Linked DNA regions of Homo sapiens: region 2 is linked to region 1. The links come from fine-mapping of genetic effects on gene expression. Tissue or cell type: whole blood. Region 1 holds a variant in brackets; the other region holds the start of a gene. All regions are shown on one strand. Distances are from middle to middle.

Region 1 (2,760 bases):
CTGCCTTGCACAACTCATTAGCATAACAGGCTCCTATAATTCTAAAGATTTTTGAAGCTCTGTGCCAGGAACTGGGGTTGAAGACCAGACATATTCTTTATTATATCACAGGCCACCCCCTAGCCTTTTCAGCAAAAGGATCATACCTGTCTGATCATCCACATTTGGTGTAGCATTTATATAACAGATACAGCAATAGTACCAACATGAATATGCCTAATATTTGGAGAAGTCAGTGTGGGGTAGGGATAGGAGGTCTTAAATCCAATTTTGCAATACATTTGGCTATCAGTTTCAGTACAGTATTATAATCTTGCCAATAATGGCTGTATTATATCAAATTGAGGTAGATGTAATATGAAATATAAGAGTAATCAGTTCATTATCATATACTATGACCAAAATGTCTCCCACAGAAAGGCCACCCAGGTGTGCAGGCTTCCATTCAATCTTGTTAAATTCCAAAAGCAGGTGTGGTCTCAGCAAAATATGGCTTCATCCTTTCAGACCTCTGGTATAACCATATCATCCCTTGCTCTGGGTCTCTTTCAAAGTGTTAGCATAATATTGGATTTCCCTAATTGGGTTATTCATTCCATACCCTCAGCTATTATTCTTCATTCTCTCATTTATACCCAAACTTTTCTACCTTTGGAAGGGACATTAGGAGAGGCCACTGTGCTAGTCCAGATTGCTGGCAACAATAGTAGTTTAACAAGTGCCTCCCCTTCAGTCCACTCCAATTTATATAGATTAGGGCTATATAGCTACAGGACTAATGGACTATCTTAGCCACTGGATGATACAGCAGCATTTACTGTCAACTCAAATTTTGCCAGATGGGTTGAGGGCACAACTTAACCTATAGGGTCCTTAGAAATGCTGAAATAAAGATTTAAAGGTATAGTTACAATGTCTTGCCTAGGAATTATCTATGCTTCTGGCACCTGCAGATGTATCTCTAGTCCTGGAACCTCTGCATCAGATGGCAAAAAAGAAAGTTGAGGTGATGTGGGCAAGAATCATATAGTCATACCAACACCCTCCCTCAACCCCTCTCCCCTAGATTTTCCTAGAAAAATGGAGGAATCTCTCCAATGGGGATTCTCCCTTGGCCCCCTCATGGTGCATGTGAGCATACCCTCATGAAAACATTTAAACAAGTGCTTCATAACTTTATCCCCTCCCCCATTTTACTTGATTTTTAAATTTTATTTTCTTATTTTATTTGGTTTTTTTTTTTTAGAGACAGGTTCTTGTTTTGTTGCCCAGGCTGGAGTGCAGTGGCATGATATCTCACTGCAGCTTTGAACTCTTGCGCTAAAGTGATCCTCCCGCCTCGTCCTCCCAAAGTGCTGGGATTATAGGCATGAGCCACTGCACCCTCACTCACCTCATTTTAGACAATGAATGTTTCAAGTGCTCATTCCAATTCCCTATTAAACTGCTACTCTGAGGATGACAATGCAAC[G/A]TGGTATGTCTGTTTGATGTGATATCTCTTTGTCCACTGTTGGACATCATGGGCTGTAAAGTGTGACTCTTGGTTTGAAGAAATGTAACTTGGTGGTCCAAATTAGTACAGTATCTTTTGTTCCAATAATTTAATAGTATTTTCAGCATTCGTATCTACCACTAGGTGTGCAAAGCCCAGTCCAAAGTAAGTGTCTATTCCTGGCCGGGTGCAGTGGCTTACGCCCGTAATCCCAGCACTTTGGGAGGCCAAGGCAGATGGATCACCTGAGGTCAAATTTTGAGACCAGCCTGGTCAACATGGTGAAACCCAGTCTCTATTAAAACTACAAAAGAATTAGTCAGGTGTGGTGGCAGGCGACTGTAATCCCAGCTACTCGGGAGGCTGAGACAGGAGAATCACTTGAACCCAGGAGGAGGAGGTAGCAGTGAGCGGAGATCACACCACTGCACTCCAGCCTGGGTGACAGACCAAGACTCCATCTCAAAAACAAAAAAACCAAAAAACCAAAGTAAGTGTCTATTCCTGTCAGACCCCATTTGTAGCCCCCAGGGCTGCCAGCATTTGTTCAATGTAATCTATCTACCAGCTATGTGTGAGGCCTTCCAACGGGGGAATGTGCCCCAGGGCCACCTGCATTCTCTGTCTCTCTTGCTGGCAGACAAAACAGTTCTTGTTGGCATTTTGTGCTTCAAAGGGTGCAAGAGGAATATGTCTAGATCTCTACATTGCCACAGTATTCTTAGGTCCACTCATTCCATGGACCCAGGTGGCCACCTCAAGTGAGCACACTGGGAAATTCACTCACTGGTGCCAATCACCTTCCAATCCAGGAAAGTGATTCTTCTATTGGGCATTGATATGTCCTACTTTAATCTATCCCTCAAATTTCCATAGTGATTTTCTTAGGGGATCCCTTTAAGAGGGCAGTTTTCTATTGCTCTTCAGCCTGACCATATGATCACGTCAGTATGCACCACCCATGAATCAGTAAAAACCCAAATGTAGTGGCAAACAGAATGCAATAGCCTATAAGGTAAGTTGTTTTTACCTTCTTAGCCTTCCAAACAAGATGCTGCACATTCACCTTGGAACTGCGATTATAAACCAAGAAGCTCTTTGCTGTTTATAGGACACTCTCCAGGTAGCAGTAGAATCTGACAGCTCCAGCCAGGTGCTGTGGCTCACGCCTATAATCCCAGCACTTTGGGAGGCCGAAGAGGGCGGATCACCTGAGGTCAGGAGTTTGAGACCAACCTGGTCAACATGGGGAAACCCCATCTCTACTA
Region 2 (2,500 bases), 41 kb before region 1:
GATTAAAATACAAATTCCTCATCCTGCTTTACAAAGCCCACTATGCTGTAGCCAGCCACTCTGTATTTCATCAGTCTCTGAATTGGCCAAACTTATTCCTTTTGCAGCTGTTTCTTTTGCTTGGAATGCTTTTGTACATGATCTTTGTGTGGCTTAAATGTCAGCCCCTCAGACACCTCGTTACCCAGTCATATTACATCACCGCTTATTTTCTGTAGCACCCTCACCACTATTTCATCTTTCAGCCCATCTCCAGTGCTGCAACGTGGACTTCCTGAAAGCAGAGATCTTTTTTTTTTTTTTCTCACTGCTGTCTAGTTCGCCCTCAAACAGTGCCTGACTTATAGAAGTGCTCAGTAAATAACAGTGATTAAATGAATGAAAAACTGTGAAGTCTGACGATTATCATATACCTAAGTGAAGACAGAATGGACAAATGAATATGCCACTATACGGTTCTGGCAAGAGGTATAGGTTAACAAAGAAAAATAACTTCAGGATTAAAACTATATTAAAAGCCACAGGTCTGGATAAGATCATCTAGGATGAAAAAATAGTCTTTTTAAATCAATACACCATTTATTAACCTGAGCAGCAGAGAAGGGGCTCGGAAAAGCACCTGCTCTGAGACCCTTACTGGAGCCCCAAAACTTCTCTCCTTAAGGAGCCCTCGGGGAGAGAAAAAAGCCTTCCAAACAGGCTTATGCCTTACACCCCCCCCCCCCCATTCTCCGTCTGTCTCCGAGCACAGGGGCCCCACGCACCTCTGGGGGATCCATCCTGGGGTGCGGCGACCCTCTTGGTAAGCAGCGAGCGCCTGGGTCCGCCGGCCTGGGTCTGCAGCCCGTATGAGAACTGCGGCGGGTCGTTCCAGCCGCGTTCCTTGTTGCCTGCGGAGGCGAGGGATGTGTGAAGCGAGCCCGGAACTCCACTGTTAGCTTATACTGGGGCTGGGGGAGACAGAGGGTCCATACTAAGCGCCGCAACCGCCCCCAGCCTAGGCCGGGGCGACAACCTAGTGCCCTAGCCCGCCGGCTGCGCTCACCCGGCTTCACGTACAGCTCCGCCATCTCCACTTCCGCTTGGCCAGCGGGGCAGCGCGTCATTTCCGGGGCGGCCCCTCACGCGGGCCAGTTGAGACACGTCCAGGGCCAGGCGGGTTGCCGGAATCCGTGGAGGATGGATGCTGGTTCACAACCGTCGGGAGCCGCTGTGGGGACCCTGCGGCAACTCCCTAAGACTCGAAGGCTCCATCTAATGAACCATCAGGGCCCTGGTCACAAGGCACCAAAGGAGGTTGCTGTCCAGGAGCCAGTGCTCTAGGAGGCCTCATCCTCTCAGGAGCAAATTCAAACAAAGAAGCTCCTGCCCCACATACACCCCGCTGTGATCTAGCCAGGTTGACTTCTACAGCCTCCTCTTGCATTGCCCTGCACAATCTCCACATTCACGTCCGGTAGCCTCACTAGTACTCATCTTCCTTCAGTTCTCAGTTCAGATGTCAGTTCTTCAGGAGGCCTTCTGGAATGTCTCAGGCCAGGTTAAGTGTCTCACTTGAGCTCCCACGACCCTACAACCCTCTGAGATTTCGTAGGTGTATTACATCACATCTTCTGCCTTATTTGACTCTTGTTCGTTTCCCTGTCGGACAGTCTTAGAAGGTGGGACCTTGACTATTTTATTACATTCCCAGTGCCCAGCTTAGTGCCTGGCACAGGGAACTCCTTAGAAAATATGTTTGTTGAATGAAGTCAGATCTCCATCACACCCATGCTGTCATGTGACTACAGAGAGCCACCAACATCAAGCACAGACACAAAGACACTCATCTCACACAGGGTGTTAGCCCCCAGCCCTGTCCCAGGCCCAATATACTCACATCCAGTGAGGTCACTGAGGGATTTTTATTTGCACTGATTTTGCTATAAAGTGTTACTGAGGTAGAGCCAACTGTCCAGGGTTGGACAGGGGCAAGGAACACAAGGACCCAAGGAAAGGGGAGCCAGGGTCCTACGTTGTGGTGCAGTGCCTCCCAGTCATCCGTATAAACAATAAATTGGGCAATAAATAGACGGTGGACAAGGATCGGAGGGACAGGCAGAGAAGGCTTCAAGGAGTGACAGGCTATAGGCCTTGAGGAATAAAACGGTACAGAGTTAGGCATGGACCCAGAGCCTACTTCCCCAGCCTTCCCAGATAAGTTTAGGGCATATGGAGCAGAGAGGGTTTCAGCCGGAAGGCATCAAGAAAAGAGAAGACACCCCGCTTTCGAGGGGTTGCCCCTGCACCGCCAACCCCTCCTTTGAGCAGGGGGAGGGGCAGGGGACCTCCTGGGGAATCCATGGAGCTGGTCCGCTTGAGCCGCAGGCGGGCACGGGCCTGGGCACCCCAGGCCTTGCCTCGAGCTGCAGAGGCCACAAGACACTTCTGGTACTGAACCTAGGGAGAAGGGGAATGTGAGGATCCAGCTACTTTCTGCCTCTAGACTCCCTGAAAGCTT

What was found. PIP is the estimated chance that this variant, and not a neighbour inherited with it, causes the effect.
Region 2: SRA1 starts here. The variant in region 1 is fine-mapped to the expression of SRA1 in whole blood (INTERVAL, PIP above 0.99).

What each region holds. Positions count from the first base shown.
Region 1 is chr5:140,596,980-140,599,739 of GRCh38, forward strand. It overlaps a transcript of TMCO6 not described here. Among named protein-coding and RNA genes, the nearest start is that of SLC35A4, 34 kb to the left of the region's middle. The variant G/A (reference allele first, on the strand shown) is at 1,472.
Region 2 is chr5:140,556,383-140,558,882 of GRCh38, forward strand. It overlaps SRA1 (steroid receptor RNA activator 1), which reads right to left and starts at 1,091. Exons shown (of 5, transcript NM_001035235.4): 1 at 1,046-1,091; 2 at 765-890. The coding sequence starts at 1,070. It overlaps APBB3 (amyloid beta precursor protein binding family B member 3), which reads right to left. Exons shown (of 13, transcript NM_133173.3): 13 at 1,886-2,439. The coding sequence ends at 2,203. RefSeq lists enhancers at 324-1,145, 1,011-1,370, 1,461-1,520.